Homo sapiens: one gene and its partners. The protein of the gene in region 1 purifies or fractionates together with the protein of each later gene. This does not show direct contact. Each region holds a gene or a part of one and is shown in the gene's direction. Other genes may lie near its edges. The genes, in order: DKKL1, FAT1, ITGA8 and CELSR2.

Region 1 (7,929 bases):
TCACGCCTGTAATCCCAGCAATCCCAGCACTTTGGGGGGCTGAGGTGAGTGGATCACCTGAGGTCAGGAGTTCGAGACCAGCCTGGACAACATGGTGAAACCCCATCTCTACTAAAAATACAAAATTACCCAGGCATGGTAGTGCATGTCTGTAATCCCTGCTACTCGGGAGGCTGAGACAGGAGAATTGCTTGAACCCGGGAGGCAGAGGTTGCAGTGAGCCAAGATCGCGCCACTGCACTCCGGCCTGGGCAACAGAGCTAGACTCCATTTCAAAAAATAAACAAATACATAAATAACCCAGCCTCGGGTAATTCTTTATAGCAATACAAACGGACTAACACACATGCCGAGAAGACAGATGAACGCACAGGAAGCAGCTTCTTCCTTGAACCTGAACCTGCCCATGCGAGGATGACCCTAAGAAGACCGGCCCATCCCAGACAGAAGCCCACAAGTCCATTCCGAGACCTGTTTTCGAGTTCGGGTCTTCCCCGTTCTCAGCTTGATGTAGCGGGCGATCAGTTCATTCCGACCTGAAGATTCAAAGACGGAACAGAGTTAGTTAGACTTTCAACAGAACTTCCCCACAGCATGGACACCAGGGAAGAAGAAAGCAGCATGGGTCCCCAAAGGTCTGCAGCAAGTGGGCTGCCGGTCCCCTCAGCTACGTGGAAGCCAGACTGCTTGGGTTCAAATCCCAGCTCCATCACGCACTGGCTCTGTGCGACCATAAGCAAATCACTTAACCTAGCTGTGCCTCAGTTTCCTCATCTGTGCAAATGGTGATGCTAGCTCCTACTTCAGAGTGCTCCATAAACCTTGGTTACTGTCATTATTCATCAGTGGGGGCCAGGGCAAAAGACAGAAGTAGACTCACCATACATCTTGCCTTCATCAGACAAAATTATTTTCCGGCGGCCGCAGGGTGGATAGATGGCCAGGGCCTCCTGGAAGCTCTGCTCAATGTCTGGGCTCCACACCCCCTCTGCATCCGGGCCCCCGTCACCCCCAGCCCCCTCACTGCCGCCGGTACCCTCCTCACTGCCTTCCTCACTGCCCGTCCAGCCGCTGCCATCGTCCAGGGCGGCCCCAGCCCGGGGTTCCCCCATCTGGGCCTGGAGGAACACAGAACTCAGCAAGCTTCCCCCAAACCCCACCCTCAAGGGACTTGAAGCTGAGAGGGCTGGGACTCTGGACCACTGGGTCTGAGGGAGGAGGGGCTGGGGACCTGGACTCCTGGGTCTGAGGGAAGAGGAGCTGGGGGGTATTCCTGGGTCTGAGGGAGGAGGATCTGGGGCCTGAACTCCTGAGTCTGAGGGAGGAGGGGCTGGGGCCCGGACTCCTAGGACTGAGGGAGGAGGATCTGGGGCCTGGACTCCTGGGTCTGAGGGAGCGGGGGCTGGAGGCCTGGACTCCTGGGTGTGAGGGAGAAGGGGCTGGGGTCTGGACTCCTGAGTCTGAGGGAGGAGAAGGAGCTGGATTTCTTGGAAAGCTGAGGATGGGAGTGTTCTCAGAGTTTCCAGAGGAACTCAATTGTGATGAAGTCACAATGATTACCCTAGAGTAATGCCGAGGGCCATGAAGGCTAAAGGTTCGGGTATGAATTACGGGTTTTAAAGAAGACAGGAGGCAAAAGTTAGTGGTGGGGAAGGAAGGTGTGGGTGAAACTTCCCCTGTCCCACCCCAAGAACAGGTGGTAAGATGTGAGCAGCAGCTGCCAGAAAAGAAGAGGGGCCAAGCAAGACTGAGGGGAGGTCTAGAGAGAGGGGGACAGAGACCCAGAGAGGGAGGGGGACAGAGACCCAGAGAGGGGATGGGGACAGAGACCAGCAAGGGGGGGGGACAGAGACCCAGAGAGAGAAGGGGACAGAGACCAGAGAGAGAGGGGGACAGAGACCAGTGAGGTGGGGATAGAGACCCAGAGACAGAGGGGGACAGAGACCAGAGAGAGAAGGGGACAGAGACCCAGTGAAGGGGGGGACAGAGACCAGTGACGGAGGGGACAGAGACCCAGAGAGAGAGGGGGACAGAGACCAGAGGGAGGGGGGGACAGAGACCAGAGGGAGGGGGGGACAGAGACCAGAGAGGGGGACAGAGACCCAGAGAGAGGGACAGAGACCCAAAAAGAGAGGGAGACAGAGACCCAGGGAGAGGGGGAGACAGAGACCAGAAAGAGGGGGACAGAGACCGGGGGGGGGGGACAGGGACCAGAGAGAGGGGTCCAGAGGCCCAGAGAGGGAGACAGAGACCCAGAGAGAGAGGGTGACAGAGACCCAGAGAGAGGGGGACAGAGACCCAGAGAGAGAGGGACAGAGACCCAGAGAGAGAGGGGACCAGAGACCCAGAGAGAGGGGGACACAGACTCAGAGAGAGGGGGACAGAGGCTCAGAGAGAGGGCAACAGAGACCCAGAGAAAGGGAGACGGAGACCTAGAAAGGGCAGGGACAGAGACTCAGGGCAGCAGCTGAGGCCGAGACCAGGAGAGACCCACAGAACCACAAGCTGGGGGACAGGGGCGCCCTGCCATCAGAAGAGCCAGAACAAAGGGCCCAGGCGTCCCCTCCCCCAGCTTCCCACAACCCCCATCAGGGGAGGGGCTTGCCGGCCAGGGCGACTCCCCTCCGGCACCGGGCCCCGCCCCTCCCCTCCCCCGTGCGCCGTGGGCTCTGATCCAACTCAAGTTCCCAGTGACTTTCCGGAGGCCGGGAACAGGGAAAACTTTTTCCAATACAGTCAGATCCCGCCTCCCCGGAGGCTCCATGTCCTCCACAGCTTTCCCAGGACCCCAGAGTCCAGGCCCCTATTCCCCTCCTCCCGCCGACCATAGCAGACAAAGACCCCAGCCAAGCCCAGTGGCGCTGCGGCGTTCAGGACCCCCGTAGGCCAAAATCCCAGCCCAGCCCTTCCCCATGTGGCCAGACAAAGGGACGGTGGAGCCGGGTAAGAAAGGTCCCCCTAATTTCCCGCCCCAGACCCTAAACCTCCAAAGAGGCAAGACTTAAGATCCAGAAAGCCCCGTAACCTCCCCTCGGCCACCCCAGAGGCCCTCCCTTCTCCGTAAGAAGGACCAAATGCCCCCCAGATTACACAAGGGGTCCTTCTCACTCCAAAGTGACACCGCCGCAGACGCACGCCCCACACCCCGCCAGCGCCCTTGGCCCGCACCCGCTCCTGCGCGCACGCCCAAACTCAGACCCAGCCGCAGGCACCCTAACTCCGGCCAGAGTTCCCACTCCTCACTGAGGCTCGGTCACGGGAGCAAATTCGGGCCCCCGGGCAAAAAGAGGGCTGCGAACCATTCAGAGACGGTCCCGCAAACGCACGCCTCACCTCCTAAGAAGCAACTCCCCACCCCAACTCACACACCCCAAAGCAGGATCCCCGACTCCCGCCGGCGCCTTCCTACCTCCCGGCCTGGGGCTGGGGAGCCGCGGGCGGGCGGGGCGCTGCGAGGGAGAAAGTTGCCGGGAGCTTTGTTTGGGAAAAGTGGGAGGGACCGGAGGGGGGGGCGGGCCCGGCCGGCGGACAGCGGGAAGGGGGATCCGACGGTGACAGTTTGGGGAAGGATTTTTGCTTTGGGAGAGATTAGTCTATCTCGGGGCTGGTAGGAACTCAGGATTTGGGTGCTTGGGAAAGGAGGGGGATTGGGGGTTCGGACTCCAAGTCGGAGGGAAAAGGCTGATAGGAGCCAGAAACCCCTGATCTGAGGGAGGAGAGGCTGGGGGCTGGGACTCCTGGGTCTGGGGGCTGGGACTCCTGGGTCTGGGAGAGGAAGCGGCTGGAGAGAGATATGGGCTCCTAGGTCTGAGAGGGGACGGGGCTAGGCGCCTGGAATCCCGGCTACCCTCGTGTTTGTGTATTGGGGGTGCGGAAGTGATACGAATACAAAGAGTCTTTACTGTTAAGCCCTGAGGTTTTTTTTCTTTTTTTCTGTTTGGTTTTTGGTTTTTTTGTTTTTTGTTTTTTTTGTTTTTTTTTTTTTTTGAGGATTGGGGTCTGGGGATGGGTTTTGACTGATTCCTATGACGACCTGGTTTCCTTGTGACCTCACCACAGTTAAGAGTCGTGGGCAGGACCACCGGGAGTTTATTGGAGGCCCACGTAGGTGCAGATTCCTCATCTACAGGCGCTAGTGGACTGGAGACGGCTGGCGGCTGTCCCGGGACGGGGAAGAGAGCTTTGGTGCCTGAGGGAAGATGGCTTAGGGCCCGGTCCCTTAAGGGTGAAAGGCTGCGTGTTCAAAATTACGGGACTAGAGGGGGCGGGAGTCCGGACCTGAGGTCCTCAGGGAAAAGGAAGTCTGATTCTGGGTTCCTTGGAAGATGAAATATAAGACTGGATTTAGGGTTTCCGGAGACAACGGGACTTTTTAGTGGAGCGGGAGCGGGAAAACCAGAAGGGACACGGAGAAAAGGTTCCGAAACAGATACACAATTAGAGTGAGAGCTAAAAGGGATGCTTGTACTCCGGTGTCTCCAGTAGGAGGAGCCTAGGACTGGAACTTGGGGTGATGAGGGCAAGATCTGGGACGCAGGGGCGTGGTCCAGTGCAGGGGCGTGGCCCAGTGCAGGGGCGTGGCTTTCAGCCAAGGGGCGTGGCCATTGCGATTGGGCGGGACTCCGAAACGAGGGCCGCAATCAGAGAACACCGCCAGGACTTCCAGGACTTGGTCTCCAGGACTGAGGTCAACTGACGTGGGCGTGGTCTGACTGTGTGGGCGTGGCCAGGGAATGAACTCACGGCTCTGGCTTAAGGGGTGTGGTGAACGAAGGATGGGGCGTGGCTGTGTCACCAAGGGCGTGGTCATGGAGTAGAGGCCCGGGCTCCTGGGTGAGGCCGGCAAGTTTGGAGCGTGGTCAGACAATAGGGGCGTGGCTACGGCTCGCGGAGCGCAACCAACGCTCTAGACCAGACCTGGGCTCGAGACCATAACTGTTTGGCTTTAACAGTACGTGGGCGGCCGGAATCCGGGAGTCCGGTGACCCGGGCTGTGGTCTAGCATAAAGGCGGAGCCCAGAAGAAGGGGCGGGGTATGGGAGAAGGTGAGGATTGAGATCTGGTGGTGAACGTGGGCGAAAGTGAGGAAAAGACCATTGGATGAGGCCGGGTGCTGTGGCTTACGCCTGCAATCCCAACACTTTGGGAGGCCCAGGTGGGCGGATCGCTTGAGATCAGGAGTTCGAGACCAGCCTGGGCAATATGTCGAAACCCTGTCTCTACAAAAAATACAAAAATTAGCCGGGCGTGGAGGCGCGCGCCTGTGGTCCCAGCTACTTCGGGGGGCTGAGGTGGGAGAATCACCTGAGCCCGGGGAGGTCGAGGCTGCAGTGAGCCGTGATTGTGCCACTGTACTCCAGCCTGGACTACAGAGTCTCGGTCTCAAAAAAAAAAAAAAAAAAGCATATGAGACAGAACCCAGAAGAGCCAGACCTGGGAGAAGACGGGGCCTGGCAAGGTGGAGGGTGTGGGAGTAGAAGAAAGAAGCAGTGGGGGAAATGAGCGCGGTGTGGGAGTTGCCTGAACTGGGGAGGCGACCTGGGCAAGGTGCTGGAGAGGGGCGTCTTGGGTGGGGGCGTGGCCACTGTGCGGGGCTCTGACCCCGACCCTTGCCACAGCCTCCCCACCTGCCCCCGCAAGGCGGCATCTGCTGGTCCTGCTGCTGCTCCTCTCTACCCTGGTGATCCCCTCCGCTGCAGCTCCTATCCATGATGCTGACGCCCAAGAGAGCTCCTTGGGTCTCACAGGCCTCCAGAGCCTACTCCAAGGCTTCAGCCGACTTTTCCTGAAAGTAAGCGATGGCGGGGGGATGGGGGAAGAAGTACTGAGAAGAGGTTCAGGGACACAGAGTGGGAGATGGTTCAGGGCCAGGCAGGGGGACAGACAGGATGAGAGGGCAACAGGGAGACCAAGAGATAGGAAGAGGGAAGGGACTGGGCCCAGGCTATAATCACAGCACTTTGGGAGGCTGAGGCAGAAGGATCATTGGAGCCCAGTACTTGGAGACCAGCCTGGGTAACATAGTGAGACCCTCATCTGTACAAAAAAATATAAAAAATAGTTGCAGGTACATGCGCCTATAATCCCAGCTGCTTGGGAGGCTGAGGCAGAAGGATCCCTTGAGCCCAGGAGGTCGAGGCTGCAGTAAGCCATGATAGCACCACTGCACTCCAGCCTGGATGACAGAACAAGGAGACCCTGTCTCTAAACAAATAAATATATACGTGCATAAATAAGAGAGGAAAGGTAACAGGCAAAGAGAGAGGAGATGGGACAGAGACAAGAGACTGGGGAAAGAGACAGGAGGAGAGGGGGATGGGGACAGAAGAGGAACAGGGATAGTAAGGCAATGGGACTGAGAATAGAGAGAGAATTCATGGGGGATGGAGGCCGGAGGTTAGGCCCTAAGTATCAGAGGGCAGAAAGTAAAGGGGATGGGAGGGACTTGGGGCAAGGCCTCGGGAGCATCCTAGCAGGGCTGCAGAAGGGGCTGTACTGAGGAGATGTGAGGTCCAGCAGCTCACCAGTCCCTCCTCCGGCCCCAGGGTAACCTGCTTCGGGGCATAGACAGCTTATTCTCTGCCCCCATGGACTTCCGGGGCCTCCCTGGGAACTACCACAAAGAGGAGAACCAGGAGCACCAGCTGGGGAACAACACCCTCTCCAGCCACCTCCAGATCGACAAGGTGCCTATGCAGGGAAGCCCTTCCTGAAGTCCCCTTGGGATCCCTCCATCCCGCCATCCCTCGTGCTGCAGTATCTGTTGGGAGGGAAGGAGGGCGGAGGAGGAAAGCAGGTTTGCTCTCACTCTCTCATCGGATCCTCACAGATGACCGACAACAAGACAGGAGAGGTGCTGATCTCCGAGAATGTGGTGGCATCCATTCAACCAGCGGAGGGGAGCTTCGAGGGTGATTTGAAGGTTAGGACGTGCCCCGCCGTCAAAGTGTCCAGGCCCAAACATTTTCTTTTTTTCTTTTTTAAAGAAGAGTCTCACTCTGTCACCCAGGCTGGAGTGCAGTGGCACGATCTTGGCTCACTGCAACCTCCGCCTCCGAAGTTCAGGCAATTCTCCTGCCTCAAGCTCCTTGGTAGCTGGGATTACAGGCACCTGCCACCACGCCCGGCTAATTTTTTGTATTTTTTTAGTAGAGACAGGGTTTCTCCATGTTGGTCAGGCTGGTCTTGAACTCCTGACCTCAAGTGATCTGCCCATCTTGGCCTTCCAAAGTGCTGGGATTACAGGCATGAGCCACCATGCCTGGTGAGGCCCTAACATTTTCTGTAGTTTAGGAGGACAAGAAGAGGAACTGACCCTCTTACTCCTCTGTGTGGAACTTCCTCCTTCTGAGCCTCAGTTTTGCCATCTCTCAAGTGGGGCAATCCAACTGTCAGAAATGAGATTTTTGACCTCAGAATACATCTGCAAGGGTTTAGTAGACCCTAGAGGGTTTTGTATCAAAGTGGTTTTCTTTTTTTTTTTTAACTACATAATAGTCAATCAAAGTGTTTCTATGAGCACCAAAATGTTTTATAAACCAAGAAGGGTTTTTAATTCTAAGTGCTTGGAAAGCTTCACCCTCATAAACCCCAAATTGTGTTTTTGTCTCAAAGTAAGTGCTCTGCAAACTTCAGAGTATTTTTCAATCTATCCCAAAGTGGTTGGTAAACCTCTCCATTATAAACTCCAAAATGTTTTTGTTGTTATTGTGGTTTTGATTTTTGGGGTTTTTTTTGTTTGTTTTTTTGGTTTTTTTTTTTGAGAATGGAGTCTTGCTCTGTTATCCAGGCTGGAGTACAGTGGCACAATCTCAGCTCACTGCAACCTCCAACTCCCAGACTCAAATGATCCTCCCACCTCAGCCTCCGGAATAGCTGGAACTACAGGCGCGGACCACCACACCCAGCTAATTTTTCTATTTTTAGTAG
Region 2 (7,995 bases), on another chromosome or scaffold:
GCGATCAATACAATTGTCACTAGCCACACATGGTCACTGAAACTCGGAATGCAGCTGGTGAGACTCAGGAAGTGCCTTTTAATTTAGTTTAACTGGAAGTAGCCACAGGGGGCAAGTGGCTGCCCACTACATTAGCACAGCTCTAGAGGTTCTGTTAAAAGTTTTCTGCCCATCTCACTTTGAAAACCAGCTATTTTGACTAATATCATCAATTGTTATTCATAAGTTCCTGTCATTTGTGATTTTTATCTTTTTTAAGTAATTTGGTTTATTTATTACAACTTTAAAGTGAGTATAGCAAACCAAATGGACTTCAGCGAGAAGCCTCTCGGGGTGAATTTATTGTGAATCATTTTGAGGACTTGCAATATGTGGTCAATTTCTAATTTCAACTATTGACACAAAAGGAGAGAGCCTGTGTAGTTGAAACAGGGAAGCAGGAGAAGTCCGCTGGGCACTGACAGACTGGCCTCTCAAGCCAGCCTCCTCCCTCCTTAGGAATCTGGCACCCTCTAGCTGCCCTCGGGGTCTGCAGGAGCTCTAAAATCCCTTCCTATATCCCTCCGTGTCCTAGCTCCCTGGATCCTCTCCTCCCTTCCAAATCAAAATGTACCTTGAGGGAGAGGCTTGGGCAGGAGGATCTCTTGAGCCCAGGAGACCTGACTTGAGTCTGGAGACCTGCCTGGCAGAATCTCCAATCAGTGGTGATGATGCTGATTTTATGGATTAAAAACTGAGACACTGCCAAGAAGTGAGGGAAGGGAGCGGGGGAGGGCAGGAAAACTAATATTGTTTAAGTACCTACTATGTGCGTGCTAGACACTTCATATGATGCTCAGTAAAAATGCTTTGCCTGCATGAATAACTGTTATCTCCCTGGCAAGTAGAGTGCAGTATGTTTTTTTTTTGAATGGATAAACACATGAATACATTTTTACCACATGAAGCAGATATTAGTCCCATATCACAGATGAGGACACTGACATTTAGACAAGTTATGACTTCAAGGCTAAACACACACAACATTCCAATCACCTAATCTTGTTCTCTCCTTACTGTTTAGCTCCCTGCCCAGTTTCCTCTGTGCTCAGAATTTTGCTCTTGACCTTTGTAAAAGAACGACCAGCTAAACTGATCAACATATTTATACCAACGGATGCAAATATGATAGAACCGCCCCCAGCCCCCTTTTGCAAGGATCTTGAATGTTAATGACAATCTTCTGGGGACAATGTCAACTCACAGAAATGGCTCCCTCGGAATTTCACGCTGTTCGGGGAGGTATTTTGGTACTTTAGTGGCATTAAAAATATATTCCACAGCAGATATTTTCCTGGAGGCTGGACACTTACATAAAGACGACGCATTCTTTATAAATTAAACCTCAACAGTGTTTGCATTTATCTAAATGGATATTATTTCGAGGAGGAGACAGTGATTTGCGTATTAGCCCCTATCACTAGGGATGACTTGTAAGACACATTAGGAACTGGCTCCTCCCCTATCCCTTCGCCCCCTCCTCTCAGAACCTTATAAGCTTCAGAGTACGGTCAAGACAAGAGGAGCATTGGGAAAGAATTTGAAAATAAAAATACAGCTCCGTGATTTTCAACACAAAGACCACGAAGAGCATAATAATAAGTCGTGAAAAAAAATTCACATCCAGAAGTTGGAGGGCCACAAAGTACAAGTCGTCCAGGCCAGTCTGCAGAGACTGTTCATGCTTCCGCCCAGCAAAAATCTGGCAGGCGACACATCGCGACGAATTTCGGCTGCAGAAGAGGAAGAGCATCACCTGCAGTCCGCGGCGTGGGAAACGCCGCCGGAGGGGCTCCGCGAGCCGGGGAAGTGCGCGCAGCGGGGCTCCAGGCGGCTCCAGGCGCTGAGTGCGAGGAACGCCCGCGCTCGCCGGCGCCCGGGAGACGCAGCCGAAGGAGGAGGGCGGGCGTTTCACCCGCGCCACAGCTGCGGCCGGCCAGAGAGACCGCAGAGGCCGGGACCCCCGCAGCCTCCACGGCCGCTGCTGCCACTGTCGGGGTGGCGCGCCCAGCCGGAGAATCCCGTCCGCGCCCGGGGCGGGGGGCGAGGCGGGGCGCTGACGTCACCTCCCCTCCCCCACCGCCTCCAAGGGGGAGGGAGTGGGGAAAGAGGCAGCGAGTCGCCGCAGCCGGCGGCCGCAACTCCTCAACTCGGCGGCTGGCTGCCTGGGCACGTCCTGACAAACTTGGCTGCTCCCGGGCCCTCGTTCCGGCCCCGCGCACTCTCTTTTCGCCTGCGTTTGGTGCTTAAGTTTGCCCTGGTCGGAAGCCTCCGGAGATGCGGCCGCCTGGGTCCCGGCGGCACGGACGTTGGCACTCTGGTTAGGGACATGCTGAAGATCCCGGGGAGGCAAAGTTGGTACTTCAAACCCGGCTCTTAACACATATCTACACCGCGAGGGGATCACGGAGCTGCCGAGGACTTTAGAGCCCAGGGCCGAGGACTCGGCTAGACTGGTGAGTTCTTTGTTCAAATCGTGCATGCCTTTTGGCATTTAAGTTTAAACGTTAATGAAATTACGTGGGGTGTGTGGCTCTAAGCGAGTGCGGGGAAGCGTGTGCGCCCTACGGGTTCTCGGCTCCAGGAGCTGCGCATCCCTCTGGCTTTGTGCGGATCGGCGATGAAAGATTCGTATGCATAGCTTTGGGAGTTCATAAAATACATATAGAGCACTGTTAAAAAGAACTTGAGAGGCGATGCTGTTTGTGCATTATTTTGAATGTAACTTATTATAGCAATGGTGCCTAGGGAGGGCGCATCGGGGCCGCGAGATTTGCAGGGGCGCAGCGCCCTCTAGTCCGGGCACCTGGCGAGGCGCGCTCCTTGCAGGGTTCTGTGCGGAGGCGAACCTGGACCTCCCCGGCGCTCGGCGACGTGGGCGCTTGCTCACCCCAGTCTTCACTGACCACCCACCCGGGCCCATTCTTTATATGAGTTACAAAAATCAGCTTGGGTGGACTGGATGTAGAGGCCGTGCTGGAGGAAAGCGTTTTGTTTCTGGAACCGTCTCCCCAACCCCCTCCCTAATTTCCACGAGCCTTTGGGGACAGGGTTAGGGAGGGTCGATTATTTAAAGGACAAATGTGGAACTTGAACCACATTTCTCTCTCTCATATAAAATAATTCGATTTGTGGTAGCTAATAGGCATGTCCATTTCGTTCTGTTGGCGCTTAAGGATCAGTAGAATCGTGGCAGAGTCCTAAGTCTGAAATCTCCATCCCTGGCTCTCGGCGGCTCCTGTGGCGACGAAGTGCAACTTCTTCCAGGCAGATAGATTTCTCAGGGAGCCTGGAAAATCGGGATTCCCAGACAGATGTAAAACATCTAGTAAGCCCTAGGAAGCGTTATTACTTATTAATTAATGGTAATCTTCTCCAGGAATTCTCTTGTGCCATTTAAAAAAAATCCCGTGATTTTACGTCAGGGAATGGTATCTTTGTACTTTTTTTACTGTTCTTCTTTTCCCCTTTTAGCATTACTCCCGCTTCCTCGCTCCCAGGAAACGGCTGGAGTTCCGGTGTGTTTGGGTTTTGCTGAGATTTACAATTCGGCAAGCGGCACAAGCCGGTTGGGCTTGGAGATCAGGTCACCCACTTTCGAGGTGTTCCATGTATGAAATTGACCTGTAAGCACTTGGAGCAATTATGGCCGGGACAAACACGTCTTTGGATGATGGAGTTTGCATTTGCTGGATGTGTGAATCTATGTGTATTCCAACTGGTGGGCAGGGAATATAGGGCTACGAATCGGCACACTCATCTTGCAGGCATTATTTTTCCTTCCCAGCCACAACCTGCTAGACACCTTTATTATTATTATTTTTTCCGGTCACCTCTAAGATGGCTTATAAGGTGACTGCGTTAACTTTGAACCCAGGAAATTCTCTTTCACACTTGACTGCCCTGCCGTTCCCCTCCCCGCCAAGCTCCCCTCACCAGTCCCAGGGAAATCGGATCTCTTTGTCTTCCCAGTGTTAAAATGCCTGAGTCCCACAAACTTTCCGAGATCAAGTCCGCCCTCTTGTCCGGGCTGCGTCCCAGCGCCTCCGGCCCTCCGGGCTTCGGCCGAGTCCGCCCTGCGCCGAGCCTGCGGCTGGAGCCCTGCCCGCACCGGGGATGGGCTCCGCGCCCGGGACGCTCAGGCTGGGCGCCCGGCGCGGGGAGTTCTCGGAGCGGGCTTCTCGGCGCTGGGGCTTCCCCTCTGCCTAGGAACTTGCAGTTGTCGGCCTGGGGTCACGCTTTGGGGCCCCTGGGGCCGACTCCCGGGCTAGGAAGCCCGCGGGACGCCGCGACTGCCTTTTGTCCCACAGGCCTGGGCGTCCGGGGTGTCAGCGGGGGAGGCCAGGCGCCCGCGGCGGGGAGGGCCTGGGGTCTAACTCGGCAGAAAAAGGTCGCGGGGGAAGCGTTTCCATTTTCTGGGGATTGAAGGAGGAAGTAGATTCCGACCTAGCTGCATTCCTTTGGAGACCTGAAGGACGACTTCAGCCCACCAAACCTTCGCGGACCCAGAGCCGCGCCATTCAAATGCAGATTCAGGGGCTCCCAGAAGGCTATGGAAAAGCTAAAGGGATGCCTCTGGGAAGCTTTCTCATTAGGCCCCAGCCTTTTTTTTTTTTTTTTTTTTTTAGCTAAGCTAACGTTTCCCTTTCTTGGCAGGGAGCTTTCCCCAATTCCTTGCACAGCGCCTGTGGCTGGCCGTAACTAACCTCGGCATCACAAGCCTCGCCCTGCCCCTCGGAGCCGCGCTAGACCCCGCTGGGCGCCTTCTCGTCTCCCAGCACGGACCTGGTGTTCGCAGGGACTGGGGCTCTTTGGGTCCGGGCGGGACTGCGTGGCCGAGCCCGCGGTCCCAGAGCCGGCAGCCGGGGAAAGTGGGCTCGAGTTTCCGCGCCCGAGAAATGAGCGCCGGCGCCGGCGGGCGGGGCCGGGGCGGAGGGATCTCCTGCGCTCGGGGAGCGTGAGGCGCCGGCGCCGAGCTGGGCGGCCGGGCGCGGGGAGAGGGCGCGGGAGCGGCTCGTGCGGCAGGTACCATGCGGACGCGCGAGCCCGGCGAGGGCCCCGGCAGGCCCGGTCCCTGCTCGGGGGCGCGCTGAGACGGCGGGTGAGCTCCACGAGAGCGCCGTCGCCACTTCGGGCCAACTTTGCGGTTAGTTCGCTGGGGCGCGGGCCGGCGGGCGGGGGCGAGAGCGTGCAGCGCGCTGCGGTGCGGACTCTGTGGGTGTCCGCCCGGTCCCCGGCTCGGGCTCCGGCGCTGCCGAAAACGGATGAGCGCGCGACTTCCCGGAGGGTGGAGTGACTCGGTCCTTCCCAGTTGGGAAATTCAGCACTGGCTAGGGGGGTCCCGGCGGCGGAGCGGGAAAAGGAGGCGACCGCGCGGGACCGATCCGGGGCCATTGCTGGGGTCCGATCCTTTCTGACACGCCGCCTTCCCTCCGGGAGCTCGCCGGGCTGCGCCGGCCTCGCGGTCTCCTGGGGCATCCCGCCGTCTGCGAAAGACCCGCTCGCTGAGCGGTGCACGCGGGAGGCCTGCGCGGGGCTGCCGGGTCCCTGGGTCTCTGGGTGTTTGCGCCCTGCAGGAGCGCTGCCCGGAGGTGCAGATGCAACCGGTGGACTGCGGAGTGAAGGGCTGCGAGGCTGCATTTCGGGGCTGAACATCTGCACAATGTGCGGTTTGTCAGTGTTTTCTGTCTTCTCTGGAGGAGGAACTTCTAAGATCTTTTTAAAAGAAAGAGTTTTTGGTCCTTCATTGCCTTTAAAAAAAAATGCTTTCTTTTAGAGAGCCAGCTTTCTGCTGTGTGTTAGATTTTTTTGTTCCCGCTGATGTGAATTGCAAGGCTTTGGAAACAAGGACGCAATTGTATGAGTTAGGAAAGTAAACTCATAAATATTTTCTATGCAGTTAAGTTTTTTTTTTTGTCTGAACTGTGGTTTCATTAAGTGGCTTTTGTTAAGCAATTCCCGGGTGCCTGATAGAGGCGATTTTTTAAAAGTGGATATTAACAGTGATTATTAGTATGAGAAAAGATTGAAAAGAAAATGACCTTCAGATATTCATTTCCTTTTCAAAAGCAGATTCTTAATGCTTCGTATATTCAGATACAGGTTTCGATAGTTTAAGAAGGTATCTGTGTGTGAGAACTAGGTAATGGTGATGTTTTTCACACTATTCTTAATGAGTTTGGTTATGCTGTCCAACACATCCAGTTGTTACAGGGACGTTTGAAAAGGTGTTTCTCCAGTTAATAGTTAATTGTGATATTTGTCTTTGTCTTTTTGTCTTAGGAAGACAGCTCTGATTCCACAGTTAGAATTATTCCTTTGTATTTAAGATGTAAAAATACTTAAAGCACTATGTAATTTTTTAAAACAACAATTGGTATAAGCCTTGAGTGATGCTAAACATGGCATTTAACAAGCTCAAGGTAAGGTTTGATTTGAATGAAGTTTGCATTTGTATAACCATTTTTTGAAAAATGAACACCTTAAATGAGCCAAATTCTTTGGCACTCTGGAAAGAAGTGTGGTTGTTAGAGGACTTTATAAAATCATTTCGGGCCACCTGTATATTCATTTGTCTCTTTTGAAGTATCCCCGTTGGGTTCTCATCATGTTAGTAGATCATTTAAATCCATGGTCCGGACAGGTGCCAACAGAAAAATGTTTAAAAATTATGGCCGGGCGTAGTGCCTCACGCCTGTAAACCCAGCCCTATGGGAGGTCGAGGCGGGCGGATCACCGGAGGTCGGGGGTCCGAGACCAACCTGACCAACATGGAGAAACCCCGTCTCTACTAAAAATACAAAATTAGCGGAGTGTGGTGGTGCATGCCTGTAATCCCAGCTACTTGGGAGGCTGAGGCAGGAGAATCGCTTCAACCCGGGAGGCGGAGGTTGTGGTAAGCCGAGATCGTGCCATTGCAATTCAGCCTGGGGAAAAAAAAGAAAAGAAAAAGAAGAGAAGAAAAATCTTTAAAAATTATGCACAAACTAATTCTGTTTTCATTCCCCTGATCATCCTCTACCTTTCCATTGCCTTTAGACTTTGCTTTGAGGTCCCTTTGAAGCAGTCGTTTCTTTGAATGTTAGAGGTGGATAGGATCTTAGAGATTATGTTTTAACACTTTACCCGCTTGCTTTCCACCCAAGTTTGGCTGATTTTACGTAGAATCAATCAGCCAAATCAAATTAGTACATTATTATTGCATTAGATTCTGTCTCAGTGGCATAATTTGTAGCCTAAAGGACCTGATTTAATAGCAGGGAGCCGTAAGGCTGGATGTGCTGTTTAATCTTTATGAGTGGGATTTGCGCTAGATAATTGTTCTTTTGACCAAATTATGTAGAAGTTGAAGCCAAACTCTATCTTTTGGTCTCACTTAATTGTTCAGTTTGCAAGTGCTTATTTATCCTTAGACACTGGAGAAGAGTTTTTGAAATGAGTGATATACATCAGTTAAGATCAGGAAGTTGCCATTTTCTCATACCTGAGGGGAACTTTTCATTTCAAAAATATATTCTGATGAGGAATCTGCATATTTCACTCTTTTAAGTTTTTTAAGTCATCTTTTACTGTAAGTCCCAGATTTAAATACATTGCCTGAATTCTTGCTTAATTCCAAGGGTTCATTATGTATGTGAAGATAAGTCTATAAAGTAAAAATAATAAAGGCTTCTATACACTGCTTAGGAAATATTAGTCATGATTTAATCTGTATCCTTCATAGAATATTAAGGTTAGAGCTTTGTGATAATCTGCAACACAGACACTGATCTGGCATTATCTATAGCCAATTTTGAGGCAGCGTAAGGTGGGTGGTGACCTCTTTCTGAGCTATTGGAAATGAGTCCTCTACAGAGCAGCCACCTGCAGTGTTGTTACCAGCCTCGTGGTTGTGCCTGGATTTTCTGTTAATTTGAGAAGGATGGATGTTTTATTTTCCTATGTTATCCCTCTCTA
Region 3 (7,888 bases), on another chromosome or scaffold:
GTGAAATTCACCCTCCAGGGACCGAATAGAAAATTTGCAGACATAAGCTGATGTCAGCAGAGACACCTGACACATTTAAAAGTCTTTTCCCCTCAGTAAGTTTAACCATCCAGTTTCTACTAATCAGTTGTTTCTAATATTGCAGGAAAGCTGAGTTCAGTTGGGCAGAAAAAAAATCTGACATAACCTCAATTATCCATTTTCTAAGTAGAGACTGAAAAGCTACCTTCCATTCCTGGTGCATTGATTTTTAAAGCTGATGGAGCCTCCGAGCACACATTGCATTCACACTGGCTTATTCTGTAAATAGTTTAAAATATTTGAAATGTGGTTCTATTAATGAAATAATTATATTGACACTTTCACACCTCTTGATTTTAAGGCATGATCATATCACATAAAGAAATAGATTGAAACACAATCAGAAATAATAATTGGTCATTAAGTTAGACATGTTTTTGATTGAAAAGTATGCACTAACTGGTTAAATGGTCTGGCATTTCTATTTTTAAGTACTTCGTACATGGCTACAACTCAGACATCATTTTTTTCCCCTGTGGTACTCTTTACTTGTTTATTTTTGGAAAGTTTGGGCCAAATCTGTTCCATCTTTGACCTTTGGGTTCTTTTCTTTTCTTTTTAGGGAAAGAACTATGTATACCTTTCCCAGTACGAAGCATACACATATGCTCACATGGATGATAAACAACTCGCAGACTTGCTTTTCTGACAAATAAATCAGTGCTGGTAGATCTTTAAAATGTCAAACTTCTCATTCAGCATGAGACCTGTCACTGTCCATGTGTTTTTTTGACGAGTCCCCAGATCTTACCAATTGGCATGGTTCCCGTATGTCAGAATGATGAAATGTACAAGACACCTATTCAGACTTATCCCTTCTCTACAATTATTGCAATTGGGTATTTTTTTTTTCCTGGCTTCTTGGAAGGTTTACTACTCTCCCAGGCTTTTGGCCTCCCAGGGAGGTCAAAGAGCTTGGAGTTAGTTTGCGTTCCCTCCAAAACACCAAGGTGCAGCCAAACCTTTTTCCACGACCTCTCGGAAAAGTACACAGCAGCTTTATGCCATCTCTCAAGGACTAATCATAGGCATGCCCAGAGGGCAGCCCAGAATAGCTTACTACCTCTAGAAAGGTGGCTTCTCATTATTATCATGGCTTTAAAACCTGATTCCTTATAGATCTAGTAGCATGAGGAACTGGTTTTGGCATTTGATAGGGTTAAAATAGTACGACTTACTTGCCCTGTAAACATGCATATTATTTTACCTCCCCAAACTTTAATGTCCTCATCTGTAAAGCAGAAAGTGACCATATTAAGAATATAGACTTATGTAAGTCAACAGCAAGTATGTTTTAGAACACAGAAATAAGAATATACCTAATTATGTGTCAGTAAACAGATTTTTTTTCCCTTATCTACTCTATTTTTGTTGTTGTTGTTTTGAGACAGAGTCTCACTCTGTCACCCAGGCTCGAGTGCACTGGCATGATCTCGGCTCGCTGCAACCTCCGTCTTCCAGATTCAAGCAATTCTCCTGTCTCAGCCTCCTGAGTAGCTGGAATTATAGGCATGTGCCACCACACCCAGATAATTTTTGTATTTTTAGTAGAGAGGGGATTTCACTATGTTGGCCAGGCCGGTCCCAAACTCCTGGCCTCAAGATGATCCACCAGCCTCTGCCTCCCAGAGTGCTGGGATTACAGGCATGAGCCACCATGCCCAGCCTCTCACTCTATTTTTGAACAAAAAGACTAAAAAGTTTAAGAAATATGCCAAGGAAGTAAGCAAGTGGGTACAACATGGGATACCCTGGTGATGTGCTTCTCTATGCAAATCAAAGCATTGTGTAATATATAGCTAGTTCCACCTAGTAAGTCAGCACACAGGTCAGGTGCATGTCTAGGATCATTCTATCACCTTCTGCCTATTTAGATGGTTCTCATCCATCTCAGGCTAGCTTGCAATAGGACAGATTTCCAAATTTCAGCATGCCAGTGTCAGGAAATGATTGAGTTGAGGTTATTTTTCTAACCTCAGTGTCCAACACAGTTGTCAGCATTCCTATTTGTATGCTGCCCATGAATTCCTCATTGAAAATTACTGAAGGGAACACCACTTTGATGAACAATAGTAACTTGATCAGAGTAGCAGACTCTGCGTTCAAAGCAAATGAACTTTTAAAATGAGAAGCAAGTCTTCTACCATCTACTCCTAAGTCTTTACCTGGGAAAGGAATACTCAGGAAATTATCCAGACGTGACAATTTGCCAGGGAAATTTTTGATAGCTTATTTATTTGTATTATTTTTACAGGGGCATGACAAGTAAAGATATAACATTCAGATCAGTCTACTGAGTGGGTTCTGATGTAAGGGAGACAAGAAGTCCAGCTTTTCAGTAAGTTCAGAGATTTTTTTCTCTGGATAGACCCTCAAATCAATGGACAGACTGACCACTCCCGAAACTGCCATCTACATTGCTAATCGCAGGCTAGTAACTCAAATCAGTGAGCCCAGCACCTAACTCACCTTCTACTTCCCCAATCTGCTGTCCTAGCCCACTGCTACCGTTCGCTATTCTTCTTTTCTAGGTTAATACCTTGAGACACCTTGAATTTTTTTTGAGATGGAGTCTCGCTCTGTTGCCCAGACTGGAGTGCAGTGGTGCAGTCTCGGCTGACTGCAATCTCGGCTGACTGCAAGCTCCGCTTCCTGGGTTCAAGGGATTCTCCTCCCTCAGCCTCCTGAGTACCTGAGTAGCTGGGATTACAGGCACATGCAACCACACCCAGCTTTTTTTTTTTTTTTTTTTTTTTTTTTTTAGTAGAGACGGAGTTTCACCATGTTGGTCAGGCTGGTCTCAACTCCTGACCCTGTGATTCTCCCGCCTCGGGCTCCCAAAGTGCTGGGATTACAGGCGTGAGCCACTGTGCCCAGCCTGTCCCTTTTCTTTAGCATTTGTGGCCCTCCCCTCCCTTCTGTTAACCAGCTTGAGGTCCTCGCCTCCCAGTGCATCTAGGCAACACCTACTTTGCTTTCCCTTCCTTCCAACAACTACCCCCCACTCCCCACCCCTAAACTTTTGGAGCCCCAGAAGGTATGTCCCGTCTCTGCTCTAGAACTGGCTCCCTTTGCCTCAATAAATGTTATTGTTATTAAGATCCTCTTCCTGAAGATCCAGTCAACCCTATTTCCCACCACTTCCTAACCCACCCCTTTTATTCCAATCCCATGCACAACCATTTAATCTCTGTCTTTTCTAAGTATTAATACCTTCCCTCAACTTCTCCCCCCACAGTGCCCAAATGTAAGCCCCGTATTCAAAATCCTACGTAAATGTACATCTGCCACCAAATCCTCTTACATGCTTCAGAAAAAACTTAGCTCTTCTGTCTCTAAACTTCATATCTGTTTAACCTCGGCTCCTTCCGGTTTCATGCTGACCTGTTTTGTTTAATGTTAACGAATGACCATATGTTATGTAAAGGGATCTATACTCCTTTCTCTTCTCTGTCCTCCCCTACTCAAGCCTCACGTCCTCTCCGACACAGGAGACATGGGAAGAGATTGACAACACCCACGGATCAGAACCGAAATCTGAACTCCTGTAGACTGTGAACTACACCTTCTACCCCCGCAGAAAGTAAACTGTAAATTCCAACATTCTTAACTGCGCCAAACTTCATCACAATTACACAGGATGGAGATTTACTACTAAGTCATTTAATATGCCCAAGATGCCTTTAAGAAAGATTTAAATAAAATCTCAAGGGCTGGGCAAGGCGGCTTACCCTGAAATCCCAGCACTGTGGGAGGCTTAGGTGGGAGGATCGCTTGAGTCCAGGAGTTCAAGACCATGTTGAACAACATGGTGAGACCCCCATCTCCTTAAAAAAAAAAAAAAAAAAAAAAAGAAGAAGAAGAAGAAGGAGAAAGAAAGAGAAACAAAGAAAGAAAAGAAATTTTAAAAGTCAACTCGAGGTGGCAGGACGGCTTGAGGCCAGGAGATCGAGACCAGCCTAGGCCACATGAGCAGACTCAGTGTCAACAAAAAAAAATTAGAAAATTAACCAGGTGTGATGTGTCATCTGCAGTACCAGCTAATCAGGAGGCTGAGGCAGGAGGATCGCTCGAGCCCAGGAGTTTGAGATTTCATTGATCTATGATAGCACCATTGCACTCCAGCTTGGGCGAGAGAGAGACCCTATCTCTAAAAAGAAAAAAAAAATAAATAAAACAAAGCAAACCAACCAAACAAACAAAAACAAAAAATTCACACATGCACACACACAGGCGCGCGCGCACACACACACACACACACAGACACCCAACAACAAAAACAAAAAAAAACCCTCGAGGCTTTCTTGTATATGAGTTAGCTCTGCCAGGAGGTGGGGTGGACTTAGGGGAGGAGAGGGTTGTTGCATTTCAACTTTAACTCTCATCACAGACGTGCAAAGCCGTGAACGCTGAGGTCAGGCTGCAGAGGTGATGAAGAGATAATTGCTTTGCCCCTCCTGGTGGTGGGGTTGGTTTTCACATTCTCCATCCAAGCTGCGCCTTTGACACAACTGGAGCAAGCTCTCGCTCCACCTGGGGCATTGCTTCTAAAGCAATAAATAGCTTGAGGTGACAGAGACGAAACTGATTGTCCTTGAGATGGGACTGCAATAGAAATCCGGGCAGCCCGAAGAGGCACCCAGCGCTCCAGCCACCAGCTGGGCCGCCCGGGAGTCCCTGGCTCTAGACCAGCCGCGAGGAGGCGCCGCGAGAGAGCTGGTCCCTGCCCGCGGCCGGAGGAGGGCTAGAGCCCCTGGGCCAGCCCCCCGAGCCGGCTGGGCGGGCGGGCGGGTGGGAGCAGACGCCGGGCACTGTCACCACGGGTGCGCCGAGCGCACCGACCCGGGACACGGGCAGCTGGGGACCGCCAGATTCCACCAGCCCCCCTTGCCCCGCAGGGGTCCTCGGCTCGCGCTCCTGGGTAGCAGCCACCCACCGGGGCGGAGGGAGATGTCGCCCGGGGCCAGCCGCGGTCCCCGGGGAAGCCAGGCGCCGCTGATCGCGCCCCTCTGCTGCGCCGCGGCCGCGCTGGGGATGTTGCTGTGGTCCCCCGCCTGTCAGGCGTTCAACCTGGACGTGGAAAAGCTCACAGTGTACAGCGGCCCCAAGGGCAGCTACTTCGGCTACGCCGTGGACTTCCACATACCCGACGCCCGCACGTAAGTCGCCCGACCCGGGGAGGTGCGCGCGGGGACGAAGGCGCTCCCGGGTCAGGTCCCAGCGGCTCTGCCGCGGAGTCCCCCCGCAGCCTGGGATCCCCGTCCTGCCGCCTGCCCGGGGTCCCGTCCCTCTCCCCGCCACCAGCCCCTTCTCTCCCCTGCCATGCTAGATGTGCCTTGTGAATTTTGAGCTAGAGACATGCCACTTGCATAGAACACGCAAGTCCTGGGTGTTCCAGGTACCAAGACGCACGCATCCTACAAAGGAGAGAACAGGACCCAGAAGACCCAAGCCAGTTAAAACCGCCACCACAGCGAGGTCTGTTTATGCAGAGTCTGTAACCATTGCGTCTGGGCGCAAGAGCTGTCGGCTACCAGCAGCTGGGCTCTGTCCTTGGCTTCCTCCTACCCCACCCCCTTCTCTCATCTCACTGTACCCACAGAGCTCCACCTAGAGAAGCAGGACCGTTTGCATTCTTGCAAACCAGGTTGCGGACCCCCGTTTCCAAGAGGAAATCAAGTTTGACAGTCGGTCCTCATCATAAATACGTTCATGCCCTCCACGCCTGCCCCAGTGTCCCCGGGCAGGAGGTTACAGAGACTGCATTGCATGCGCACGGTTTTGTGGCGCCCAAAGAGTGACTTTCTCCAACTCTTTTGCAGAGCGAGTGTCTTGGTGGGGGCGCCCAAAGCCAACACCAGCCAGCCCGATATCGTGGAAGGGGGAGCCGTCTATTACTGTCCTTGGCCCGCGGAGGGGTCTGCGCAGTGCAGGCAGATACCGTTTGACACCACCAGTAAGTGAGATTTGTCCTTCTAAGCTGTGGGCCTGGGTTTGGAAGAACCAGGGCCATCCCAGAGGCGACTTCCCGCTGTCTTGGTGTGCTGCTCGTTTAGCTTGTCTGATATGTCCGTATTGTGGGCTATGTGGGTCTCTAGAGAAATCAGTTTTTTCAACTCTCAGTTAACTGAAGGAAGACGTTTAGTGAACCCTAGAGAAAGGACACTATTTTGACCCTGAGTGTTCGGATGCATCCTGGCAACTCCTGTTTCTTTACCTTTCTGAGATGAGCATTTTCAGGGTGAGTGGATGTTTTGGAGAAATACAAAAACTATGTCCTAACTTTGACTGTGGAGAGAATTTGGTTGCTTCTCAAGGACAGATCTGGAAAAAGAGAGATCCTTAGCGTTTCCAGTGCCCAAGCTCGGGAGGCAGGACTTAGCTGCTGCAGACCCAGACATCACTCCGCGTTGCTGTTTAATTCTTTACAGAAAGAAAGAATTTTCTTTCAAAGTATTAGACATTGAATGCAAACTAGTGCAGGCAGAGTGTGGATGGATTACATTCATTTCCAAAATCCCTAGACAGATGTTTCTTATTTAATTAAAGGGAAAATACATTTTAAACAATTCAGTCTGGTTACGTTTCCTCTGGTGTTTTCTCTTTAGAGCCTGAGAAAATAATTTAAATGCGATGCTTTCAAAAACATTAACACCGAATGCTTTAATTTTTACCACCAAAACTTTATGAATTCAAAAGGTATATATTATCAGAAAGCAAATATCTCTTTCCAGAAAAATGCGAATATGTCAGCTTGAACAATGGTCCTTGATAAATAATCGTTTAAAATACCTTGTGTACCACACAACTATTTTATGACATACTTGATTTCTTTGATTTTTAATTGTTTGATTAGTGCGTATATGGAATTTATGCGGAATATTTTCACAGAATTTCGATGAAATTGGCTGGATGATGTTTACTTGTTACTATAATTTGTATCTTTTATGTTAAAGGAGAAAACAATTTCAGTTTCATAAATATGAAAATATTTCAAAGCAAAACAGACTATACAAGCATTACCTTGAATTATGACCAAATTAGGAAAGTATTTTATAAAAGCATTGGAAAATTATATTTTTATCATGCCTGTCTATATATGGTCACAATAGCTTATCATTTTATTAAATATTCTGTTATTTTATACCAGTTTTTATAAGCTTTTACTTTTAAATTTGAGTATTAGCAACCAGGAAGATTAAACCTTTTGATGTTAATTTGTGACAGAAATCTTTTAATTAGTTATTTTATCAAGACTTGAGACACTTTCTAGCTACTGCTCTCTAGTTTAAGAATAAGCTTCGTAAACCAAAAGAATTAAACATTTAAACACAAAATTAATGCCATTTTAATAATTCATATCCGAATCATTTGTATTTTTAAAAGTATTTTAAAGCAGGCCAAATAAAGACATGAATCATTAACATTATTTGAATTTACATTAAGGAAAGTATATTTTGAGACATGGTTGATGTGTTTTCACCAAGAAGCAATTTATGGTCGTGGAAAAGAATTTAATAATCTTCTTGTATAGTCTCATAACATCAAATCAGGATCTGATTAGTATTTTTTTCTTTTGATAAAGGAAGAATCAATGTCTGCCCTGATAAGTTACAACTGACTTACTTTGTAAGTACTCATCCCAATAGATGTCATAGGCCAACAGATTAAAAACCAGAGAATCCAGATGTCAACTATGAATTCAAAAAATAACTGACCACTCCTAACTGAAAATTTTCAATATTAAATTACAATAGGTAGGCCAGGCGTGGTGGCTTATGCCTGTAATTCCAGCACTTTGGGAGGC
Region 4 (7,016 bases), on another chromosome or scaffold:
ACCAGGGCAGTGTCTATGAGGATGTGCCACCCTTCACTAGCGTCCTGCAGATCTCAGCCACTGATCGTGATTCTGGACTTAATGGCAGGGTCTTCTACACCTTCCAAGGAGGCGACGATGGAGACGGTGACTTTATTGTTGAGTCCACGTCAGGCATCGTGCGAACGCTACGGAGGCTGGATCGAGAGAACGTGGCCCAGTATGTCTTGCGGGCATATGCAGTGGACAAGGGGATGCCCCCAGCCCGCACACCTATGGAAGTGACAGTCACTGTGTTGGATGTGAATGACAATCCCCCTGTCTTTGAGCAGGATGAGTTTGATGTGTTTGTGGAAGAGAACAGCCCCATTGGGCTAGCCGTGGCCCGGGTCACAGCCACTGACCCCGATGAAGGCACCAATGCCCAGATTATGTACCAGATTGTGGAGGGCAACATCCCTGAGGTCTTTCAGCTGGACATCTTCTCCGGGGAGCTGACAGCCCTGGTAGACTTAGACTACGAGGACCGGCCTGAGTACGTCCTGGTCATCCAGGCCACGTCAGCTCCTCTGGTGAGCCGGGCTACAGTCCACGTCCGCCTCCTTGACCGCAATGACAACCCACCAGTGCTGGGCAACTTTGAGATCCTTTTCAACAACTATGTCACCAATCGCTCAAGCAGCTTCCCTGGGGGTGCCATTGGCCGAGTACCTGCCCATGACCCTGATATCTCAGATAGTCTGACTTACAGCTTTGAGCGGGGAAATGAACTCAGCCTGGTCCTGCTCAATGCCTCCACGGGTGAGCTGAAGCTAAGCCGCGCACTGGACAACAACCGGCCTCTGGAGGCCATCATGAGCGTGCTGGTGTCAGGTAAGGAAGGGCCCAGGTGGCGCTGGGGTGGGGGTAGCTCGCGGGGATGGTCTGGGCAGCCACTGGAGGTAGGGTGCGATCCAGGAAGCAGCTACAGATCCACCTCCCTGCCCAGTGCCTGGCACAGAGCAGGAGGGGCAAGAGCCAGCTTGGGAAGAAGCCCCAGGAACCCTGGCGGCTGGTGCAGGCCCCACCTTCTGCTGGGCTGGGCTGGGCTGCTTCGGTTGGCTGCCCCCACTGTCTACCAGCCTGTGACGTGGTCGGGGAAGTGTTGTGAGGCTGCCCCGGCTATGGCTGCCAAGAATTGTGAAAAAAGGCGCGTGGAAGCCTGGGGGGCCAGGAGAGCTGGGGGAAGGGCAGAGAGGACTGTGGCGCAGGAGAGGAGGCGAGGCCAGGGCCCCTTCACCCCCATCAAGATATTCCTGCAGTCTCACACAGCCTTTGGCAGAGCTGGGGACCACGGGAGCACAGGGCTGCCGCCACCCAGGGGTCAGGACCCTGTAGTCCTCTTCTGGCCCCTTTTGCCTCCTGGCTGAGCTGCAGAATCGGCTGACAGGGACTTTGTCTAGCGCATTCTTTTCCCTCCAGGCAGAAAGAGCCTGGCCTGGCTCCCCCTTCAGAGCTCCCACAGGAAGTGAGGCCAGAGCTCATTGTCTGTCCAAACAGACCCCACTTTCAGAGTCCGTGGTTCGGGTCTGGCTTGGAGGAGGGGCTGCAATGAAGCTGGGGGGCAGGCTGAGGCCTCGTGGGCCCCCCTTGCCACCTCATGGGCTGTTCTTAGGGTGCCAGGCCTTCCTTTCCTGCTAGCTGTGACCAGCCCAAGCTCCAGGAATGGAGTGTAGGGACCAGGACAGGCCAGTGGACTGGTGAGCTTTGAGGGCAGAGACCCCAAGGCACCTTATCTGAGGAGAGAACAGAGTCCCAGGGCGTGGGAGCCTGGCCGGAACCCAGGCTGGGGCATTCCTGCTGCTTGGCCAAGCACTCAGCCTACAGACTCCCTGGACAGCAGGGCTGGGGGAGGAGAGTTGGAGGGGGTTGGTGACAGTATTCTGTCTTTTTTTATCAGCTGTGGGGAGCCAGAGGTAGCAGCAGGGAGAAGACCACACCCAAGTTGCTGAGTGCCTTCCCCAAGCCTGGGAACAACTGAGACCCTCATGAGGGGATGCTGTTAGCTGCACCCCAGGGGTGGATCAGGTCACATCCCCTCTAGGCAGCCTTCAAATCCATCAGGGAAGGGAGGAAAAGAAGAGGCTGGCAGGCCCCTACTCCCACCCCAGGGAGTGTGGCCTGAAGGGGAAGGAGGGGTATGCCAGAGTCAGGGCGTGGCCTCACTCAGGGTCCTTGCTGGACAGATGCCTCCCTGCCCCACCCTTCAAAGTAGCCACAGGAACCAGGAAGCAGGAGCTTTTCAGGGACTGTGGCTGAGGTTCTGAGCCTCCTGAGACTTCAGTTTCCCCTCCAGGAGGCGGAAGAGGGAGGCTGGAGCTCCTGTGTCCTCAACTGTGCCTGGGCACTTGAGACAAGTGGGAAGGAGGTGGGAAGGAGGGCCTCTCCCTCTGGTCCTCCACACCCAGCCTGCCTTTGGTGAGCGTGGCCAGGCACTGGCAGAGAAGCGCCCCCATTAAGCCTTCGGTCTCCCACCAGGGCAGAGCCCTAGACCTTGGTTCCCTAGTCTAGAGAAGGCTCGGGGCAACATCCAGGACGGCTCCTCCTGGCCCGGCAGCTCTGGCCCCACCCTCTCCCTTCGGCCCTGACCCTTGGAGGCAGTCACCACGGCAACCCCAAAGTTCAGGGAGGCCGGGGTGAGGGGGAGCTGACTCCCACTGCCCCTTTGTTTTCCTCCTCTTGTTCTTTGTCTCTTCTTTCTTTCCCGCCCCTGCCCATGCGGAGCCCTGCAGCACTGCCTCTCTCCGGTGCCCTCTCCCTGCTCCTGCGGCTCTCCGGCTCTCCCACTTGCCCATTGCTGGCTCCTCTCCTGAGGCTTTGTCTTCCCCTGTTTGGTCTCCGTGTTTGTGCCTCCACTCTCTTCCCTATGGCTGCAGCTGCCCCAGCCTGGGCCGATGGCTCCCCTGGAGGCTGAATTCTCCTCGCCTCTTTCTTCCTCTGCTCAGACACGCAGCAGCTCCTGTCCATGGTCTGGGCAGCTCCCAGAACAGCAGAGCCCTCTTGGCCTCCAGTCTCCGCTGGCACATCTGCCAGGGGAAGAGAGGCTGGGAGGCTGACCGGGACCTGGCACTTTTCCAGGTGTGCCTGGCTAAGCTTGGGACACAGGTGGCATTTCCTGGGGTCAGAGGCCATCCCAGCTGTTCCTTTTCTGTCCAGGAAGACAGCTCAGGCAACGTACTCCCCACCCCTGTTCCCATCCTGCCTTTGCACCTGAGGGGTGACCTAGGTCAAGGCAGGGGAGGGTGATATAGAAAGGAGAGAGCAGTGGGTTGACTGTTGGGGATGGGGGACAACAGCAGAGGGGGCAGGTGGCCACAGATGGTGGACCAGATGGGAAGCAACAGAGACATGCTGGGAGAGGGGCCCAGGCGGGGCCTAAGACGATGGCGGTGGGGGACACAGGGAGAAGTGTTTGTTCCCAGGGCTGAGGGGTGGCAAAGTTTCTCCCGCTCCATGGCCTTGGTTGCCCCCTCTCCTCTCTTAATCAGTTATGGGCACTGTGTGTGGAGTCTTGGGCTGCTTTCTGCCTGGAGGGAATATCCCGTCAAGGAATCATTAGGCAGATATACCAGGTATACAAGAGCTCTGTGCCAGCTGAGCATCCTGGTGCGGGGAAGTCTGAAACGGAGAGGAAAGTAGAGCCTGATGACATAAATCTGGGCAGGCTTCCTGGAGCAGGTGAGCTAGGGCAGGTTAGAAGACTCAGAGGACTGTGGGCTGGTGTCTGGGTGGGAAGGAACAGCCTGTGCAGCAGCTTTGAGACGAGAGCAGGAGGAACAGAAGTGGGTGATGACAAGCAGGCTTGCTGGTGAGAGCTAGTGAGAATAAGCAAGTGATGAGGCTGGAGGGTAGGTGGGCAGTCGGCTGAGGACATGGCTGAGATGGGGGTCTGCTTTCAGCCTTCCCGGCTTCAGCTGAGCCACCGCTGGTACAGTCAGCCACCGCAAGTAGGTACAACACAGATGCAGAATTTGTTCCCATGTCCCTTGCCTACTCCCACCCCACCCCAGAAACATGGGCTCCTGCCCCGTTACTGCTAGGGTAAGCATTTGCTTTTTATATCTAGTTGGGCTCCCCCTGCTATGTGGTTTTGTTTGTTTGTTTGGGACAGAGTCTCACTCTGTCACCCAGGCTGGAGTACAATGGCGCGATCTCGGCTCACTGCAACCTCTGCCTCCTGGGTTCAAGCAATTCTCCTGCCTCAGCCTCCTGAGTATCTGGGACCTCCTGAGTAGCTGAGATTACAGGCACCCACCACCACGCCCAACTAATTTTTGTATTTTTAGTAGAGACGGGGTTTCACCATGTTGGTCAGTCTGATCTCGAACTCCTGACCTCGTGATCCACCCGCCTCAGCCTCCCAAAGTTCTGGGACTACAGGCGTGAGCCACTGCGCCCGGCCCCCTGCTATGTTTTAAAGTCCGTTTATTCTTTGTGGAGACTGAATAGATTGTCATCCACATCTCAGTGTTTTCTGAACACCTACTATGTGTAAGGCATTGTAATAAATACAAATATGAATATGCCAGTAGCTCATGCCTGTAATCCCAGTGCTCTAGAAGGCTGAGATGGAGGATCACTTGAGGCCAGGAATTTGAGACCAGCCTGGACAACACAGCAAGACCCCATCTCTACACACAAACAAAAATTAGCCAGGCATAGTTGTGAGCACCTGTGGTCTCAGCTATTTGGGAGGTTGAGGTGGGAGGATCGCTTGAGCCCAGGAGTTCGAGGCTACAGTGAGCTATGATCGTGCCACTGCTCTCCAGTGTAGGCGACAGAGAGTCTGTCTCTTAAAAAAAAAAAAAAAAAGACTATCCCTTCTTGCCCTGTAAAGCCATTTCCTCCTTCTCCAGGCCCCAGCTTTCATTTTTTAGCTAAATAAAATTCATTCCCATGTGTATGTGCATTCAGGTGTGTATGGTATTTCTGGGCTTAGGGTGTGTGGGTGGAATGAGACACCAGCAAGTGTGTTTTAGTGCTTAGCTGTTTATAAGTGAGTGTGTTGCCTGGGGGCATAGCAGGCATTTGGGTGTAATGGTTGAGCCAAGTGGGTGATGAGTAGCTAGAGGCCCTAGGACCAGAGAAGAGACTGACTCAGTGGGGCTCTGGGGTCTCAGAGTGGAGAGCTGCCCAGGCCCTTCTATCTCTGCCTTCCGGTCCCCCACCCCGACTCACCCTGTCTCCAGCATGGGGCAGTGGGTGATGATGTCACTGGTTAACGTGGCTCAGCTGGATTTCCTGGGGTGGGGCCCCCCAGGCTACCCACAGCAGCCCAGAGAGTTGGGCGGGAAGAATGCTTTGTGTTGGATGTTGCCATGGGGATAGCAGGTCTGCGCGCCCAAGCAGCCATGGGGCTCAGTGGGAGGGGGACTAGGTGGCCCACTGACCCAGTTTACCCACTCCCCCCCACCCCCGCCAACTCCCTGCTGCTGTGGGGGAGTGGGGAACACAGCCATGGTTGCGATTATCGTGGTGTTGAGGTGTAGAGGCTGAGGGGGCAGGGGGATGATTTTTGTGGGTCTCAGGATGCTCTGGGCCCTGTAGAAAAGTATGAAAAAGACAACATAGGGTTCCCGCGCAGGCAGCACAGACTCTGGGGGAAGGGAGCAGGAGCGGTGGCTTGGGCAGGGAAAGGTGCACAAACATTAAGAGGTGTGCCGTGCATCAGCGACAGAAGGTTTTGGGAAAGGATGCAAAGAGAACTGCAAATCTCATCCCCTGAGCCCTGAAGGAGTGATTGGCCCACACGTGACATACCTGGCTCAGCACCCTTATGCCAGTTGGAAAGGAGAGCCTTTCTTGGTGGGTGGTGCAGGAATATGCAGGCTGAATTGCAGCCCCAGGCTGGGTCCTGACTGTGTCCCTCTCCACAGACGGCGTACACAGCGTGACCGCCCAGTGCGCGCTGCGTGTGACCATCATCACCGATGAGATGCTCACCCACAGCATCACGCTGCGCCTGGAGGACATGTCACCCGAGCGCTTCCTGTCACCACTGCTAGGCCTCTTCATCCAGGCGGTGGCCGCCACGCTGGCCACGCCACCGGACCACGTGGTGGTCTTCAACGTACAGCGGGACACCGACGCCCCCGGGGGCCACATCCTCAACGTGAGCCTGTCGGTGGGCCAGCCGCCAGGGCCCGGGGGCGGGCCGCCCTTCCTGCCCTCTGAGGACCTGCAGGAGCGCCTATACCTCAACCGCAGCCTGCTGACGGCCATCTCGGCACAGCGCGTGCTGCCCTTCGACGACAACATCTGCCTGCGGGAGCCCTGCGAGAACTACATGCGCTGCGTGTCGGTGCTGCGCTTCGACTCCTCCGCGCCCTTCATCGCCTCCTCCTCCGTGCTCTTCCGGCCCATCCACCCCGTCGGAGGGCTGCGCTGCCGCTGCCCGCCCGGCTTCACGGGTGACTACTGCGAGACCGAGGTGGACCTCTGCTACTCGCGGCCCTGTGGCCCCCACGGGCGCTGCCGCAGCCGCGAGGGCGGCTACACCTGCCTCTGTCGTGATGGCTACACGGGTGAGCCAAGGGAGGGGACTCATGGGCCAGCCCTGGAAGGCTGACTGTGTGGTGCAGGCACAAATCAGGACAAATGCTGGCGGCTGCCTCATTCTCTTCCCGAGTGAGGTGCAGCTACACTGAGAGGTCATAAATCCGGCCTGCTCCCTGACAGCACCCCACTGAGGAAGGCAGTGCAAGGAGTGCTTCTCCCTGCTGTGCACAGGACACACAGGCAGTGCCATTGTGGGCAGAGCTGGCTCCAGAGCCAGTCGGCCTGTGTTCGTGTATCAGCTTTGCCGCTAGTAGCTGTGTGACCTTGAACAAGTTACTTAACCTTTCTGGCCCTCGGTTATTTGAAATGGAGATAATGACCGTACTTAGGTCATAAGTTGGTTGTGAGGATTAATGTAATTAATTTGATACTTGGAAACAGCTGGTGGCATGGAAGGTGTTGGCCTTGATTTAAGGGAACGCTGAGATTGGGTGACTTGC

The links.
Region 2: the proteins of DKKL1 (region 1) and FAT1 purify together in Homo sapiens (co-immunoprecipitation; 3 studies listed by BioGRID and IntAct, with this or other methods). This does not show direct contact.
Region 3: the proteins of DKKL1 (region 1) and ITGA8 purify together in Homo sapiens (affinity purification with mass spectrometry; 2 studies listed by BioGRID and IntAct, with this or other methods). This does not show direct contact.
Region 4: the proteins of DKKL1 (region 1) and CELSR2 purify together in Homo sapiens (co-immunoprecipitation; 3 studies listed by BioGRID and IntAct, with this or other methods). This does not show direct contact.

The regions. Positions count from the first base shown.
Region 1 is NC_000019.10:49,358,964-49,366,892, forward strand, and holds the start of DKKL1 (dickkopf-like protein 1 isoform 1 precursor), read left to right. Parts: upstream 1-4,913; 5' UTR 4,914-5,035; coding exon 5,036-5,045; intron 5,046-5,070; exon of another isoform or gene 5,071-5,100; coding exon of another isoform or gene 5,101-5,155; intron 5,156-5,618; coding exon 5,619-5,791; intron 5,792-6,545; coding exon 6,546-6,686; intron 6,687-6,829; coding exon 6,830-6,922; intron 6,923-7,929. Other genes in the region: TEAD2 (transcriptional enhancer factor TEF-4), read right to left, coding at 472-536, 881-1,112. UniProt on the Homo sapiens protein: Involved in fertilization by facilitating sperm penetration of the zona pellucida. May promote spermatocyte apoptosis, thereby limiting sperm production. In adults, may reduce testosterone synthesis in Leydig cells.
Region 2 is NC_000004.12:186,720,854-186,728,848, reverse strand, and holds the start of FAT1 (protocadherin Fat 1 isoform 1 precursor), read left to right. Parts: upstream 1-4,992; 5' UTR 4,993-5,185; intron 5,186-7,995.
Region 3 is NC_000010.11:15,716,915-15,724,802, reverse strand, and holds the start of ITGA8 (integrin alpha-8 isoform 1 preproprotein), read left to right. Parts: upstream 1-4,880; 5' UTR 4,881-5,031; coding exon 5,032-5,240; intron 5,241-5,903; coding exon 5,904-6,037; intron 6,038-7,888. UniProt on the Homo sapiens protein: Integrin alpha-8/beta-1 functions in the genesis of kidney and probably of other organs by regulating the recruitment of mesenchymal cells into epithelial structures.
Region 4 is NC_000001.11:109,252,538-109,259,553, forward strand, and holds part of CELSR2 (cadherin EGF LAG seven-pass G-type receptor 2 precursor), read left to right. Parts: coding exon 1-852; intron 853-5,894; coding exon 5,895-6,542; intron 6,543-7,016. UniProt on the Homo sapiens protein: Receptor that may have an important role in cell/cell signaling during nervous system formation.